Linked DNA regions of Homo sapiens. The protein of the gene in region 2 purifies or fractionates together with the protein of the main gene of each other region. This does not show direct contact. Each region holds a gene or a part of one and is shown on either strand. Other genes may lie near its edges. The genes, in order: ZMYM6 and ZNF18.

Region 1 (9,564 bases), on a different chromosome or scaffold from region 2:
GGTCAGGAGATAGAGACCAGCCTGACCAATATGGTGAAACCCCGTCTCTACTAAAAAAAATACAATAGACGGGCATGGTGGCACATGCCTGTAACCCCAGCTACTTGGAAGGCTGAGGCAGGAGAATTGTTTGAACCTAGGAGGCAGAGGTTCCAGTGAGCCAAGATCACGCCATTGCACTCCAGCCTGGGCAACAAGAGCAAAACTCCATCTCAAAAAAAAGATCTATCTTTTCCACCTACTCACAACCTTGCAGGGGTAAGTAGCTGGTTGGCTAGAAGACTGAAATGTTCCACTTGCTTCTAAAGGCCAAGCTGTTTCAACATCCAGGTTGTGCTGTTACATTATAAACTGGGCTTCTCATTACCTGCAGTCTTTGTCACTAGTCCAAATTTAATGAAATAACTAAATTTTCTACCCTAGATTATAATTATACATAATTATTTATAACAATCATAATTATTAAATTCCTCAACAAAAAGGGAAAAATTATTAAAACATTTAATCACTGAAAACACAAATCCACATTAGGAAATTATCTTTTAGGATACTTATACAAAACTTAACACAGGATTATTGACTTCACTGTTAAGCAATGTGCATATTGCTACTCTTTCTCCTTCACTAATTTTTCTATCCTTGGAATTAAAGATGTGACTGCAAGTCTTAGGGCAGGGCCAGAACCCAACAGATTTTTTTGTTTTGACTCAGTCAAAGCTGAAAAGGCAGCATCACATAAATAAACAGTTGAAAAGGGTAATAAAAATTTCATTGCCCTTTCATGGAGTTCTGGGTAACTTGTCTTTGCATTTATCCAAAACTGAGTTACAGACACTGATTTAAATAGTGCTTGTAATCCTAAATCTGAAGATAGCTCTGTTAGCTTTTCTTCTTCGAAGTCGGTGAGATTATTATTTTGGTGATTCATAAAAGGGTGAATTATCCACAAATTTCCTGAACGCAAGTCTTGTTCTGGTGGAAAACAGTCACTGAACACTTGAGAAAGTCCTTCCAGGTGCTCAAAAATAATCCTTGTGATGTCTGTCATATTTAAGCCTGATGAATTTGAGAATTCAGAAAATGAAGGGAACATGTCATAATCATTCTCTTGTGTGCGCTTCAACCACATTTTTAACTTTCTCTTAAATACATCAATTTTATTACACAAATTGAAGAAAGTAGTCAAAGTTCCTTGGAGACTTAAATTTAATTCATTTATAAGTGAAAATATATCTGATAAGTAGGCCAGCTTTCCAACCCATTCCTCATCATGAAAATACTTGGCCAAATCTGAATGCTTTTGACTTAAAAATATTTCAATCTCATGTCGTAATTCAAATAATCTTTTTAACATTCTCCCTCTTGATATCCAACGTACTTCAGCATGAAGCGGTAAACTCACATGCTCAGATCCCATCTCTTCACACAAAATTGTTAACATACGTGAATTTAATGCATTGCTCTTTATAAAACTTAAAATTTGTGCTGACTGCAAAAGAATTTTATGTAAACATGGAGACAACTTTTCTGCCACTAAACGTTCACGGTGAATAAAACAATGTGTAAATGCCGCTGTATTCATGGCAACTTCTTGAATTTTTGCTTTTAAACCAGAATACCTGCCAGTCATGCTTGCAGCCCCATCGGTACAGAGACCAACACAATGTTTCCAATTCAGAGATTTACTATCAATATATTTATTTATTAGTTCAAATATTTCAAAGCCAGTTATTTGAGTAGGCATTTCAATGCAAAATAATAATTCTTCTTTTACATCACGACAATCATAATCAATGAAACGAATATAGCACAAAAGAAGTGTGATATTTGAGATTTCTGATGACTCATCTATCTGAAGGGCAAACCACTTTGACTCTCTGACCTTTTGAATCAGCTGGTCTTCAATGTCTGCAGATAGTTCATCAATCCTGTGTTGAATTGTAACATTAGAAAGTGGAATAGTTTTCATTTTGTCTCCAGCACTTGAACCCAAAACTTCTGAACACATTTCTACTAAATATGGTTTAATTAATTCTTCAGCAATGGAGAATGGCTTCTTGCTTGCAGCAGTTTGGAAAGCAATTAAATAAGAAGCTTTCACAAGTGACTTTTCAACTAGTAAACACTTTTTTAAAGAACTATTTTGACATTCCATTTCTAAAGATTTTTGTTCAAAAAAATCTACTGGTTTGTTTTCTAATTCTGAATGTTTTGTCTTCAAATGATGAGAAAGATTTGCTGGCTTCATGTTTTCACTGGATAAGATCTCTCCACAAATGACACACTGTGGCCTTGGTGAACTTTCTTTTGATCCAGGACAGATAATAAAACCAACTTTTAAATATTCTGTATCATAAGTCTGGAAAAAACCTAATCTTTTTTTCTTTGAAGGTGGAGAATCAAGTTCTGCATCATTTTTTTCATTAGGCATAGGTAAATCTGAATGAAATATTTGAATCACTGTTATTTTCAAGAACAAATAAGCAATGTTCTTTATGTATCTCCCCACATATTTAAAATTCATATTTTGTTACTATTTCTATTTATCAAAAGAATGCACTGGTAAAAGTTTAAGCACAAGTCATAATACTTCCAATGATGCTACTGAAAACTGAATTTCTCCTTTGCCCAAAGCTTGATCACTAGGTATAATAAAACTGTAGGATGTGGTACATGTACAAGTAATCCCAAGCACCCAATAGGTTATTGAAATTAGGGCTGAAGACCATGATACACATCAAATTAACAATAAACTTTTTGGCTGAGCAGGGTGGCTCACACCTATAATCCCAGTGCTTTGGGACACCAAGGTGGGTGGGTCACTTGAGCCCTGGAGTTAGAGACCAGCCCGGGCAACATGGCGAAACTCCATCTCTACATTAAAAAAAAAAAAAGAAGAAGAAAAAAAATTGGCTGGATGCAATGGCACACACCTATAGTCCCAGCTACTTGGGTAGCTAAAGCAAGAGGATTGCCTGAGCCCAGGAGGTTGAGCCTGCAGAGAGCCATGATCACACCACTGCACTCTTGAGACTACGTCTCAAAAAAAAACAAAAAGAATAAATTTTTTATTGGTGAGTGACACTGGTGTCAAAAAATTTTTTTAAAGAAAAAGAAAAAAAAGGCCAGGCATGGGGCTCACACCTGTAATCCCAGCACTTTGGGAGGCCAAGGCGGGCAGATCACCTGAGGTCAGGAGTTCGAGACCAGCCAGGCCAACGTGGTGAAACCCCGTCTCTACTAAAAACACAAAATTAGCCAGGCATGGTGGTACATGCCTATAATCTCAGCTACTTGAGAGGCTGAGGCAGGAGAATCGCTTGAACCCGGGAGGCGGAGGTTGCAATGTGCCGAGATCATGTCATTGCACTCCGGCCTGGGAGACAAGAGTGAAACTCCATCTCAAAAAAAAGAAAGAAAAGGAAGAAAAAGAGACAGAAAAATAATGTTTTACTTTCAAACAATCCAGAAAAAAAAAGAAAATAAATATTGCAAAAAGTTAACATTTCATTAATCTGGATGAAGAGTATACTAGTATTGACTGTACTGTATATTCAACCTTTCTGAATTTTGATACTCAGTGTCAGTGAGGTTGTAGAGAAATGGATCCTCCTGAACACTGCTGGTTGGAGCATACATTGATGTAACTTTTCAGGAGGGCAATTTAGGCAACAGGTATCAAAATACTTAAGAATAGATGATAGGCCGGCGCGGTGGCTCACGCTTGTAATCCCAGCACTTTGGGAGGCTGAGGCGGGCACATCATGAGGTCACGAGTTTGAGACCAGCGTTGCCAACACTGTGAAATCCCGTCTCTACTAAAAATACAAAAGAAAATTAGCTGGGCATGGTGGCAGGTGCCTGTAATCCCAGCTACTCAGGAGGCTGAGGTAGGAGAATCGCTTGAACCTGGCAGGTGGAGGTTGCAGTGAGCCGAGATCGCGCCACTACACTCTAGCCTGGGTGACAGAGATAGACTCTGTCTCAAAAACAAAAACAAACAAAAAAAAAGATGATAGTCTTTGAATCAACACTTCCACTGATTAGGATTTATCCTAAGGACATAATTAGGCAAGTGGACAAAGATCCATTAACATAGCTTAACCCAACATTGCTTATAATACAAATATCTAAATTTCCAATCTTAACGGAGTTGGTTATATTATATACACTGAAATCTATGTTAAGAATCTCATACCCAGGTAACAAATCTGCACATGTACCCCCGAATAAAATAAAATAAACATAATAAAATAAAAATTGGAAAAAAATAATCTCAATGTATATTTAAATTTATATTGTTGTGGAATAATGTTTCCAATGCAATGTCAAATGAAAAAGTAATTTCGATTGTTAGAAAACATTCGAGATTTATTCTTTTAAAAGAGACGGAGTTTCACTCTTGTTGCCCAGGTTGGAGCACAATGGCGCGATCTCAGCTCACCGCAACCTCTACCTCCCAGGTTCAAGCGATTCTCCTTCCTCAGCCTCCTGAGTGGCTGGGATTACAGTCCTGTGCCACCATGCCCAGCTAATTTTGTATTTTTAGTAGAGATGGGGTTTCACCATGTTGGTCAGGCTGGTCTCAAACTCCTGACCTCAGGTGATCCGCCCATGTTGGCTTGCCAAAGTGCTGGGATTATAGGCATGAGCCACCACGTCTGACCAACAATTCAATATTTAATCTAGAACTCAAAACATAAGCACACACACACACACAAACATACACACACACATACACACATATAGATGCCCACAGATCCTTTAGTACTCTCCATGTGTGAACGTGTATATAATATAAATTCAGGTACAAATAATATATTGTTTTAATAGGAATATAAAATAAATTTCCTGAGGAAGGAAAACAGGATTCTGCTTGACTTCTACCAAAATAAAGGTACCCTACATAAAAACTTACTACTTGTTGACAGACTAAGCTTTTAAATATAGTGTATTCTATGAAGTAAAATTATTATTAAAAACAAAAATCAGGCCAGGGGCGGTGGCTCATGCCTGTAATCCCAGCACTTTGGGAGGCCGAGGCAGGCAGATCACCTGAGGTCAGGAGTTCAAAACCAGCCTGGTCAAAGTGATGAAACCCCGTCTCTACTAAAAATACAAAAATTAGCCGGGCATGGTGGCAGGCACCTGTAATCCCAGCTGCTCAGGAGGCTGAGACAGGAGAATCGCTTGAACCCAGGAGGCAGAGGTTATAGGGAGCCAAGATCACGCTATTGCACTCCAGCCTGGGCAACAAGAGTGAAACTCCATCTCAAAAAAAACAAACAAACAAACAAAAAAAAACCCAGTGCTTTAGGCACAGTAGACTATTAAAGCAATTGAAAATCTAAGGGTAGTGGGATTAAAAGTAATACTTCACAACTTTTTCAAGTAAAGCTCAAACAATTTTCATCGTCACCAATACCTCAGATAAATTAATTGTACTGTTAGCAACTGACAACTGAATTCGCAGTATTTAAAAAAAAAAACAGGTTAAATCACTAATGCTTTTAACTAAAACTGTATGTTAGTAATTATAATAGCTTGTTATGATAGCTGGTTATTAGTGTTAATAATTATGAAAGCAATAAATTAAGTATTCAAAGCATGTGATCCAAGAAAAGGAATGTTTTCACATTTAAGACTCTGTCAATTATTTTCTTTTCCTTTCTTAAAAAACAAAAACAAACAAGCCAGAAAACAAGCTTTGTACATGGGAACGCACAAGGATACATACCTGTCTGACATTCTTTGTGCTGTGTATGTGGTTTGCAAGAAGTGGCCTTGGTCTGTGTGACGGGTTTGCATGATATGCCTTTGTTCTTTAAAAGCCTGGAAGGCTGGGAAGATTGGGAAGATGGAAATTTCATAGCATCTTCCTGTGTACTTTCCTAGTTAAAAGCAAATTCAGAAACCAAAGAAAGATTTTTTTTAGTACCTTATCACTGACTATAATTGCTATCAATTGAAAGTTCATATACATCAAGAGAAATATAATTCCTCTGAAAGAGTGGTTGCAATAAAAAAGTCACCTTGGAAAATACACACAGATTCCTACTTCTCCCAATCAGTATTAGTTTAATTTACTGATTTTAAAAAACATTTATAAATATAAATATAAAAATATATTTATAAACTATAAATATAAAAATATATTTATAAACTATAAATATAAAAATATATTTGTAAATATAAAAATAAAAATATACTTATAAACTATAAAAATAAAAATATACTTATAAACTATAAATATAAAAATATACTTATAAACTATAAATATAAAAATATACTTATAAACTATAAATATAAAAATATACTTATAAACTATAAATATAAAAATATACTTATAAACTATAAATATAAAAATATATTTATAAACTATAAATATAAAAATTATACATATAATATATATTTTTAAAATAAGTATGATCAAAACAATGAAAACAATTGTTAATCTTGCTGATTAGGACAACTGGCTACTCAGAAAAATTAGATCCAACCTCAGACCATACACAAAAATATATTCCACATCAATTAAAGATCTCAGGGAAAAAAAAAGAACTAAAGTCACTAGAGAACTTTCAAATAAACAGATCACAAAGTATTCTTTTCTTTTTTCTTTTTTTTTTTTTTGAGACGGAGTCTCACTCTGTCACTCAGGCTGGAGTACAGTGACACAATCTCAGCTCACTGCAACCTTCGCCTCCCAGGTTCAAGCAGTTCTTGTGCCTCAGCCTCCTGAGTAGCTGGGACCACAGGCGTGCGCCACCACGCCTGGCTAATTTTTTATATTTTTAGTAGAGATGGTGTTTCACCATGTTGGCCAGGCTGGTCTCAAACTCCTGACCTCGTGATCCGCCCACCTCGGCCTCCCAAAGTGCTGGGATTACAGGCGTGAGCCACCACTCCCAGCTGGGATCACAAAGTATTCTTAAATAAAACACAAAAGAGTAAATCAAAGTAGAAAAGACTGATACATTTGACTACCTCAAAATTTAAAACTGCTCAGATGATCCAGGATAATCTCCCTATTTTAAGGTTAGCTGATTAGGAACCCTAATGCCACTTGCTACCTTAATTCACCTTTGCCATGTAATGTAACATATTCACAGATTCTGTGGACAAGGACATGGACATCTTTGGGGGGCTACTATTCTGCCTATCATAATAAAGCTCTTAAAAAGTAAATTAATTTTTTTTTTTTTGAGACGGAGTCTCGCTCTGTCACCCAGGCTGGAATGCAGTGGCATGATCTCAGCTCACTGCAACCTCTGCCTCCTGGATTCATGCCATTCTCCTGCCTCAGCCTCCTGAGTAGCTGGGACTACAAGCACCCGCCACCACGCCCGGCTAATTTTTTTTGCATTTTTAGTAGAGATGGGATTTCACCGTGTTAGCCAGGATGGTCTCAATCTCCTGACCTCGTGATCCACCCACCTTGGCCTCCCAAAGTGCTGGGACTACAGGCGTAAGCCACCGTGCCCGGCCAAAAAGTAAAGTTTTTTAATCCAAAAAAAAAAAAAACTTCTGTAAACAAAGGTCTTTATAAAACAAAGTTATAGGGCAAACAACAGAGTGGAGGAATGTACTTAAAACATGTGTATTCACTCAATATTTATTTCCTGAATGTTTACTACAAGCCAGGCACTGTTCTAAGCCGTGGAGATACCGCAGAAAACAAGACAAAGTTCTGCTCATATGAGCCTTACATTCTAGAGGAAGACACAAAAAATAAACAAGTAAAACAAATAATATATAATTCTAGGTAGTGATAAGTGCGATGAAGAAAATAAAGCAGCGTACAGGAATGGAGAGTGATGGCATGGAGGAGGGGCAATTCTGAAGTAAACATCTGAGCAGAGACCTTTTGAATTATTCAAAAGAGTAAGCCATGCAAAGGTCTAAGGTCTGAAGAGTCCAGGCAGGCAGACTATAGGTGCAAAAACCCTGAAGTGGGAGAAAGCTTGGCATGCTTTAGGAACATCAACAAGAACAAGGCTGAAAGACAGTAAGCAAGGGGAGAATGATACATTTGGAGAGGTAGGCAGAAACTAAATTGTATAGGATCTGGAAGGTCTCAGTCAAAAACAAAATTAGGATTGTATTTTAAATGTGATGGGAAGCCATTGGAGGTTATATTTAAATTTAATTTAAACAAAAGTAATACATGAACTCAGTGCAAAATTCAAAATGTACAGAAGTATTGCGTTGGTACAAAAATAATTGTGGTTTTTGCAATTAAAGTAATATACACATGAATGACTGCCGTCCACCCAGACTCAACCTTGAACACAACCACTGTTCCCAGTTTCTTATACAGTTGTTCCCCCTTATCTGCCGGGAATATGTTCCAAGACCCCCAGTGGTTGCCTGAAACCATGGATCATACCGAAGCCTATACACACATGTATATATGTGTGTATATATAGACATATATATATATATGTATACATATATCCATAATATATCATAATATGGATATATACATATCTATATGTATATATGTATACATATATACTTACATACGTATATATATGTAATATATATACTTACATACGTATATATATGTAATATATATACTTACATACGTATATATGTATGTATATACGTAAGTATATATGTATACATATACATATATACACACACACACATACACACACACATATGTATGTGTGTATATATATATATAATTCCAGGTAGTGGTAAGTGCTAAGTGCTCTCTCTCTATATATATACATATGTATATATGTATATAGGGTTTGGTATGATTCATGGTTTCAGGCAACCACTGTGTTGCCTGAAATATGTCTACAGGATTGTATACACATATACAATATATGTATATACGTTGTATATGTATATATGTTGCCTCTATGTATATAGGGTTCTATATATATATACACACACACACACAATGTTTTTTCTATACATATATACCTATGATAAAGTTTTATTTATAAATTAGGCATAAGAGGTTAACAGTAACTACTAAATAGAACAATTATAACAATATACTATAATAAAAATTATGTGAAGGTACTCTCTCTCAAAATATCTTAATGTGCTGTACTCATCCTTCTTCTTGTGACCTGATAACTGAGATGGCTACTGACTAGTGATGGGTAGTACACACAGTGTGGATATGCTAGACAGAGATGATTTACATCCCAGGCAGAATGGCATGAGATTTCATCGTGCTACTCAGAATGGCACACAATTTAAAACTTACGAATTGTTTATTTCCGGAATTTTCCATTTAATATTTTCAAGCCACAGATAAGTGGCACTACTATATATCCTTCTAGAGATGGTGTATGTAATTAAACAAAGTTGCTTCTGACTACAAAGTGTAGCCTATTATTACCAAGATTCAGAACCTTGCTCTTGTCACTTAGCAAACTATCTTGGAGGTCCATTTACATAACATTGTATAAAGCTGCCTAATAACAGCTTGTATAGTATTCCATTATTAAATGTACCATAAGTAATCTGAAGAATCCCTGATGAACATATCTAGGATGTTATAAATATTTTACTATTATAAACAATGCTATGATGAGTATA
Region 2 (9,564 bases):
TGCTTTTCCTATGAAACGACAGACTGGAGACTCAAAACTGGGAATACCATACAGCTAGGGTCTGCTTTCATGAATTCAAATTTCAGTCTTCTACCAAGAAGCTGACTATTAGAAACTCAGATTGTATAGCAAAGGGATTAGCAGCCCATTTTTTGGAGTCAGACGTACTGAGTTTTAAGTCCCAACGTTGCCACTTTCTAGCTGTGCAACCTTGAGCAAGTTATTTAACCTTCCAGAGTTTCAGGCCTCACCTAATGATGGCACTGAACTCAAAAAAGTGTTGTGAGGTTTGAGATAAATAATGCAAGTGTCACCTGTTTTCATAGCACACTGTACTTTTTTTATTTATAGTATTTATCCATTTATTAACTATTTATGTGTATGTACAAATGTATGTGCACACATGTAAGTATTTGATTAACTGTTGCCTCTACTAGCAATGTAAGCTCCATGAGAAAAGGACTCTGTCATCCTCTCCATTGTATAATACCTTCCCAGTTCCCAAGACCCTGTCCAGGACAGAAGAGGCACTTGATATATGTTACCAGGGTGAAATAAAGCCCTTAGCAAACAGGTCCTCAGTAGATAATATATATTATTACCATCACATGCAGTCTCCCAGTCTCACCCCAAGGGTTTGCAGAGAGAATTAAGGGATTCTGCACACTTTCAGAAACCGCAAAGTGGATAGACATGAATAGCCAGGCTTCAGGGAATAGAAATGAGGAAAGGAACTACAAAGTCATCCTCCTACTGTACACAATATACTGTTTGGGGAAGGCACTCTCTGATATGATTTGGCTCTGTGTCCCCACCCAAATCTCATCTTGTAGCTCCCATAATTCCCATGTATTGTGAGAGGGACCTGGTGGGAGATAACTGAACCAAGTGGGCAGTTCTTTCCTGTGCTGTTCTCATCATAGTGAATAAGATAACATCCGATGGCTTTAAAAATGGGAGTTTGCCTGCACAAGCTCTCTCTTTGCCTGCCGCCATCCTTGAAAGATGTGACTTGCTCCTCCTTGCCTTCCACCATGATTGGGGGCCTCCCCAGCCATATGGAATTGTAAGTCCAATTAAACCTCTTTCTTTTGTAAACTGCCCATTCTCAGGTATGTCTTTATCAGCGGTGTGAAAACGGACTAATACACTCTCAGTCCTAAGTCAAGTCTGCCCCCTAGCACATCAAAGGGAAGTGGAAATGGCTCAAGGAGAAAAGAGATACCAAAAACTGTTCAATTAGCAGGTGCTAAGCCAAACACACAAACGAAAGAGGGTTTGGACTTTTTTGGGTGGGAAGGATAGGAAGCTGAAAAGCGACCTCAATATACTGAATTACACAGTCAACTATTAACTATAACCACATTTTTAATGTGAACTTTAATTTAAATTTTTTAATTTTTAAAGTATAAACAGCTAGCAGCTTATTCTGTTAATCTTCTGTGAATGCAGCTATTTTAACAACCTCCTGAAAATAATCACTTGAGCAAACATTGCTGAACACAGGAGTTCTCAGTCTTTGTGGTCAGAACACATGGACCTTGGCTTCAGTGCTAGCAGAGAAAAGGATGCACTTGCCAAGCACAGTAATATCTGCCTGGCTGCCTGGCTTGCTGACACAGGATCTATTCCATGAACACCAGAACAGTAACTACCAAGAAGAGTACAAGGCAGAAAAGGATACAGCCACCAAAACCCCCAAGGGTCAAAATCAGCTCACTCAAAAACCAGAAAAGTTGCTTCAGGAGCACTAACAGGGTACCTCCAGCTTAAAAACACAAATTTACTCAAGAAACTGCCAAGAAGCTGGGTACTTCGAATAAAACCTCCTACTGAAGAGGCAAGACGCCAATGGCAGCCAGCTTGCCTCTTTCTCATATTTAGAAGAGACGGAAAAACCTAACTTTCTATCCTGAAAGACAGACACATGGGATTTGATGGGAAAATTCTATTTTTGTGTGGAACTGGCACCATCTTGTGGGTTTATAAGATATTACAACTGACTTACACTTAGTTACACGCTGTTCCTTTCCTTTAAGTCTGAAAACAGGGGAAGGTGAGTAAATGCACTGCTGGAGTCTATGTGAGGTTCCAACCGAGTCATGGTTTCCACTAATGAAATAACTACTGTGTACTGATAGTAATACCGTATCATTATTCTGGCATTATTTATGAAGTTCCTCACTTATTTAAGAGATTAGAGGGAGTGATTAATTTAAAAATTCCTTTTACTTCCAAAGGATTCCATTAAATATCAAAGTCTTTCTGATGCAAATAATTGCTGTTAGTTTGGAGGGGATATTCAGATTGGGTAGGGACAACTTTTGTTCATTTGACTTAAATGGTTGCTAACTAGTTATCATCTGAAGGTAGGGAAATACAGACACACATATATATGTAAATACGGTTGTAAAAAACAAATTGGTGCTGATGAGCATTTTAAATCTTTTGACTTTAAGTTATCCAGAACAGGTGAGGATACTCTGTACCTACTACAGAAACAACAATAATCCTCCAAGCCTGGTTGACATATTCCACAGAACACCCAAATCTTTTTCACCAAGCAACATCTTGCTTAACAATTTGGTTTCTGGGCACCTTGAAAGCAGGCAGAAGGGTACCTTTGATTCACTAAAAAGATATTTCTCTCCCCTGCCACCTCCCCATCCACCTTCCCCCAGAGTAAACTATGAAATTGGTATTCTAGTTTTTATATATCTGAGCCTGGAGAGCTGAAGCTCAGACCCTGGTCTGAAACACAGCATTACCTACTGCCTTCTCTATTTTCATATTCACGCTACAGCAGATTGCAAGGCAAGTCCCAAGAGGAGTTCCTTCAACGTTTTAAATGATGTTTTAATTAAGATGTATAGGTTCGTGAAAAAAAAATTTTTTACAAAATACAACTTTTCAAAATTGTTAACTAAATATCAACATAAATCTGTCCCAGAGACTTTTATGTACAAGCAAAAATGAAGTATTAGGAATTGTTGAATTTACCTTCTGCCTGAAACAACTAAAAATGGGACAAAATGTATGAAACAATAGTTTTCAGACATTTCACATTACACAAGCAGAGCAGAACAAGATCCCTGAAAGTGGGAAAGCAAATTCAGTGAGCTCTAGTTATCCAAACTTACTGCCTAGACAGAGGATCCAGGCAGCAGCACAGGAAGGGAAACCCAGGCTGAGCCAGGCAGCCTCCCTGAGTTGAGCAGAAGGAGCTCAGAGTCTGGAAATGCCAAGATCCTTAGAATCGACAGGGTAGAAAAACTGGAGAGAAGGAAACTGCACAAAGAGAAAGCTCCAGAGATCTACAGAGCGTCCCCGCAAAGTCTGGAAAATAACCACCCAAAAGAATCAGAGGGAACAATCCCCTGAGTTCACACAGTGCTGGAAACAGTTCGTATTTCCACCAGGCAAAGTGGAAAACCTGGTATATGAAGGGGCATCAGATTACTCAGAATACTCAGAAGGGAAGTGCCTTAGCATGGAAAGAATAATCCTCGACTAAATGTTTCTCTGGTGCCATGTAATAAACTGTGTCCAAATAACTGCACCCCATAGCAAAGTTCAAGAACATTTATAGTAATACAAAAATATATAGCACCCCACCAATGTGATACCCAATCAAAGATTACCAGGCACGGGCAACATAGTAAGACACACAAAAATTTAAAAATTAGCCAAGCAGGCCGGGCATGGTGGCTCCCGCCTGTAATCCCAGCACTCTGGGAGACCCAGCTGGGTGGATCACTTGAGGTCAGGAGTTCGAGACCAGCCTGGTCAACATGGTGAAACCCCATCTCTACTAAAAATACAAAAATTAGTCAGGCATGGTGGCACACGCCTGTAATCCCAGCTACTCAGGAGACTGAGGCAGGAGAATTGCTTGAACCAAGAAGTCGGAGGTTGTAGTGAGCTGAGATCGCGCCACTGCACTCCAGCCTAGGCAACACAGCAAGACCCTGTCTCAAAAAAAAAAAAAAAAATTAGCCAAGCATTGTGGCACATGCCTGTAGTTCTAGCTACTCAGGAGGCTGAGGCAGGAGTATGGTTTGAGCCCGGGAGGTCAAGGCTGCAGTGAGCTATGACTGCACAACTGCACTCTAGCCTGGGAGACAAAGTGAAACCCTGTCTCAAAACAAACGAAAAAGACAAAGATTACCAGGCATACAAAGAAGTGGGAAAATACATCTCATAATGAGAATAATCATTGATCAAAACTGACCCAGAACCAATGCAGGTAGTAATCAGTAGATAAGGATATTAATACAAATACAACTATATTCCATATGTTCAAGAAGCTAGAGAAAAAATTGAACACATTAAGTATAGACATGAAAGATACAATAAAGCCCCAAATCAAACTTCTAGAGGTGAAAAATTCATCTAAAATGAAAAATATACTGGAAGAGATTAACAGCAGATTAGATGCTGTGAGATGAAAAGACTAATGAACTTAAAGACATCAAAATAGAAACTGTCCTAAATGAAACACCAAGACTTCAAAAACAGAATGAAAAATATACTGGATGAGATTAACAGCAGATCAGATACTATAAAAGAAAAGATTAATGAACTTGAAGACAAACAGAAATTGTCCAAAATAAAAGACCAAGACTTCAATAACAGAATGAAAAATATACTGGATGAGATTAACAGCAGATCAGATACTATAAAAGAAAAGATTAATGAACTTTAAGACATACAGAAATTGTCCAAAATAAAACACCAAGACTTCAAAAACAGAAAAACAATCAGTAAGCTGTGGGACAACTTGAAGAGCTCTGATACATGTATATACATTATCATTATACACATTCCACAGGTATTATTTCCCAAGTCCTTAAAGGAGAGGAGAAATAAGCGAGACAGAAAAAAAAATGCTTTAGAAATAATGGCCAAAAATTTTCCAAGTTTAGTGAAAACCATACACCCACAGAGCTAGGAAACTCAATAAATCCCAATTACATGAAATGTGAAAATGACTCCAAGGCACATCAAAATCAAATTGTTTTAAAAAATGAGAATACACTGAAATAAGCAAATATATATATATGTATATATATACACATTATATGCATAAGAACAAAGATAAGAGTACATTTGGCATGATTCTATTTTTACAAAACTCTAGAAAAAGTAAACTAACATATGGTGACAGACAGCAGATCAGAGGTTTCCTCAGGATGGAGAATGGGGTGAAGAGAAGCAGGAGGATGAGATTATAAAAGGTAAAAAGTTTCCTTTTCATCGCTTTTGTACGTCAGCTCACCTGAGGTGCTGCTGGGAGCAGTGAGGCTCCGAGGTCCTGGTCTCTGATCAGCCTTTCCTCCAGTCGGGCAGGCTGGGAGGCAGCCAGGGCTGAAGTGAGGAGAGGAAGTTTTCAGAATCTGGATGTCTTCCTTAACCACTCCCCAGAGGGCGCAGATAACAATCTTCACAAATCAGAACAATACCTGAACAATACCTGTACTGCCATCTATATTTCAAGACTTGTGTTTATCTCCCTGACACACTCCAACCCCCTCCAACATTCCAGTCTCACCCATATGTTCTCCCACCTCCTTCCTCAGAGCCAAAATCCAAATGGTCTGGCCCAGTCATAAAGCAGTTTAAAACACAGACTTTGACTCTCCAAACAAGAGCGGTTTATTTAGGTCTAACCTGTTTGCAAACCTCTCAGGGATACGCCAATCTGAGCAGCATACCATTTCAACTCACTTAGGCCTACTAATCACAATCCCAAAATCTCTCCAAGAGAACACCACACAGCACCATCCTCACCTAGTTCTGCTTCTGTGTCAGATTCCTCTTTCACGATGTGGCTCAGAAGCTCCCCAGGCCCTGAGGATGAATTCTCAAGTCCCAACTCCTGAGGCACCACTTCAAGATGGGGCTCCACTTCCCCCACTTGGCAGCTTGGAGATTCCATCTTCTCTGATAAGATGTCCTGTCCTAGAACCTGGATACTGATCTAGAGACCATATATTAATTAGTAATTACTGAAGAATCCAGAGTAAGGATCTCTAAAAGACACAAAGCTTACTCTCTACAACAGATCATAAGACAATTTCTAAGGATGTGGAGAAAGAGAAAACCAGCTTTTATTTCTAGTCCAGCAGGAACCAGGGAAAGAAACGTCCCAAAAGACACCAAAAGCTGAGGCCCGAATCAGGCGTGGGAGACCTTCAAGACATGCCACTAACGTGCTTCTACTGGATATGCGCCACCAATGAAAACTCAGGCATCTTTTAAATAACTTCTCAAACATTCTAGTCTAAAGGTGGAATGCGCTGGGAGACTTTACCCTCAATCCTCAATAGCTAAAGAGTGTTGAGAGTCAGAGAGTGTTAGAATTACGTGAGGTATGGGGGAACCCAGCTGTGGTATAATAAGAAATACACATTTAGTCTTTGTCCCCAGTTCCCATTCCCGCAGAGCTCCTAAAACCCTGGTAATTTCTTGAGGGACAGGTGAAAGAAGAGTCTTTGTTATTCATAAGGAGCCCTTCTCAACCACACCTGAGTTTATGCTAGGCTCCTAGATAGCTTCAGGATGGGGGCTGGTTGCCAGAGGAACCAACCTTGAGATTAAAAGGTTGGAACTTTCAGTATCTCCACCCAGCTTCTGAGGAGGGGAGGGCAGCTGGAGATACTCAATCACCAACGGCAAATGACTGTATCAAGTGTGCCAAAGCAGTGAAGCCTCCATAAAAATCCCTAAACCATGAGGTTCAGGAAGCTTCCAGGTTGGTGACCTCATGGAGGTACTGGTAACGTAGCACGCCAGGAGAAGCATGGAAGCTCCACGCTCTTTCCCCCACACCTTGCTCTATGCAGCTCTTCTCTCTGGCTGTTAATGAGTTGTATCCTTTAGAGTAAGTCAGTAACAGGAAGTAAAATCCTTCCCTGAGTTCTGTAAGTCATTCTAACTAATTATCAAACTTGAAGAGAAGACTGTGGGAACCTCCGAATTTATAGCCAATTTGTCAGAAGTACAGGTGGCCCCTGGGACTTGTGACTGGCATCTGAGAACAGGAGCAGTCTTGGATTGAGCCCTGAACCTCCAGAGTTAGCTTCAGAACTGAATTGCTGGACACTGTACTGGTGTTAGAGAATCACAGAATTGGCCATTGGTGTGAAAAGCCCCACCCATTTTGTGTCATAAGTGGTATCAGAAAAAAGACAACACACCTGATGGGACCAGAGAGGAGCCCTGTGTTTCACTCGCAGATCATAATACCCTCTGCTTACCCATTGCCACAGTCTCTGGGGGTCCCCCTTCAAGCTTTCCACAAGGGTCACTGCCTCTTCTCCACTTCCTGGACACTGTTTCCGCACCCACATCTGGATCTCCCCAGGCAGGATGGTCAGAAACTGCTCCAACATGAGGATCTCTAGGATCTGCTCTTTGGTGTGAACCTCTGGCTGTAGCCACTGGAAACAGAGCTTCCGAAGTTGCTTCAAGGTCTCATGAGGCCCAGACATCACCTGGTAACGGAACTGCCTGAAAAGCTGGCGTGCGGTCTCAGGGCTGGAGAGTTCCTCTTGAAGGGCAGCATCTGATTCTGAGAACTGGGAGTCCTCGGCCTTCGCCAGCGATGGCAGCAGGCCTAGGGCCTGCCCCAAGTCAACGGGCATTGTCCAGCCTGGCAAGTCCTTTTAAGTAAAGTGCTTCTGCAGTGGAATTGTCTCCGGCAAGAACTAGGTCTTCACCAGGACACTAAAAAGGGAATGAGATTGAGTGCTACACAGAGGAAGGGGACACATTTTCAGAAAGAACAAATTCACATGCCCTACCCGAGAAGCCATGGGGTCAACTATGGAGCTTTTGAAATTGCTCAATGGATACACGATTCTATTTTGAAAGATTATAAACTTGAAGCCACAAAGCAAACTACTGATACTGTATCTAAACAGCCACCATTTCCCTGCCCATTTTATAATGTTCTTTCTTGGTCTTCAAATGTCCAGACAAAATGAAGAATAAAATGCACCATACGAAACTTTTTCACTATAGGTTTCCAGGTAAACGGCTCTTCTACAAAACACTTCTACATCTTCATCTATATATCTGCATACTAAAAAATAAAGCTGGAAAAAGATATTAATGCCCTAGGAATAAAAGCTAATGCCTACATGCTTCTGTAATAAATAGGAGGTTAAAGAGAACAAGTTAAGTCTTCCAAAAGGTACCAAAAGTACTTCCAAAAGTATACCAAAAAGGTGTAATGAAACTTCCAAGAGAGGTCTTTTGAGTGCCATATTAAAATAGGTCTATTTGAGAATTTATGAAAAAAACAAGTATCATACCTGACACTTTCAACCTTGGGGTTAAAGAGGGTGAGAAGGCTGGGCATGGTGGCTCACGCCTGTAATCCCAGCACTTTGGGAGGCCGAGGCAGGTGGATCACGTGGTCAGGAGATCGAAACCATCCTGGTTAACACGGTGAAACCCCGTCTCTACTAAAAAAAAATACAAAAAATTAGCCGGGCATGGTGGCGGGCACCTGTAGTCCCAGCTACTCAGGAGGCTGAGGCAGAAGAATGGGGTGAACCCAGGAGGTGGAGCTTGCAGTGAGCCAAGATCGCGCCACTGCACTCCAGCCTGGGGGACAGAGAGAGACTCCGTCTCACAAAAAAAAAAAAAAAAAAAAAAAAGAGGGTTGAGAAGACTAACTACCTTGAAAATACTCCTATGGTGTTGATATAAATAATCACTATTTTATGTGAATGGTATCAAATTTTAGAAGATCACAACTAAGACAGTAGAAAGAGAAATATTAAATCGCAAATAATATTATTCTAAAAAGGATCATCCACTACTTCTAGTTAACTTTCTTGCAAGTAATCACAATATAGGATTACTGGGTAAATCCTTAAATGTTATGAAGAATTTGGTGGTCATCATTTCTCCCTAAGACTAATCACAGCAATTTTTAAAAAAAGATACCCCATCACTTGAGGATCTGGCTTAATCAGAGATCAGTACAATACTCTAGCTTTTTGTAGCTGCTTATTTCTTAAGGTGTAGGAAACAATGTCTTCATCCTTACCGTTTCACCAAAATAATTTATCCGACATTGGAAAATCATTTAAAAACTAAAAAAGAAAAACAATTTTTTTTCAAGGGCCTGAGAAAGGAAAAAGCGAAGTCAAAAGAATTACAGTTGACCATTGAATAATGCAGGAGATAGGGGCGCCAACCCCCCACACAGTAGAAAATCCATATATAACTTCTGATTCCCCAAAAGCTTAGCAGTCTATTGACTGATGCCTTAAATAGTTGATTAACATACATTTTGCATGTTACTGTATTTTTGTGATAAAGTAAGTTAGACAAAATATTATTAAGAAAATTATAAGGAAGAGGCCAGGCCAGGTGGCTCACGCCTGTAATCCCAGCACTTTGGGAGGCTGAGGTGGCTGGATCACAAGGTCAGGAGATCGAGACCATCCTGGCTAACACGGTGAAACCCCTTCTCTACTAAAAATACAAAAAATTAGCCAGGCGTGGTGGCGGGCGCCTGTGATCCCAGCTACTCGGGAGGCTGAGGCA

What was found.
Region 1: the proteins of ZNF18 (region 2) and ZMYM6 purify together in Homo sapiens (affinity purification with mass spectrometry; 2 studies listed by BioGRID and IntAct, with this or other methods). This does not show direct contact.

Annotation. Positions count from the first base shown.
Region 1 is NC_000001.11:34,986,497-34,996,060, forward strand, and holds part of ZMYM6 (zinc finger MYM-type protein 6), read right to left. Parts: intron 5,892-9,564; coding exon 5,738-5,891; intron 2,440-5,737; coding exon 608-2,439; 3' UTR 1-607. UniProt on the Homo sapiens protein: Plays a role in the regulation of cell morphology and cytoskeletal organization.
Region 2 is NC_000017.11:11,985,184-11,994,747, forward strand, and holds part of ZNF18 (zinc finger protein 18), read right to left. Parts: exon of another isoform or gene 8,319-9,564; intron 7,729-8,318; 5' UTR 7,647-7,728; coding exon 7,260-7,646; intron 5,981-7,259; coding exon 5,791-5,980; intron 5,368-5,790; coding exon 5,279-5,367; intron 1-5,278. UniProt on the Homo sapiens protein: May be involved in transcriptional regulation.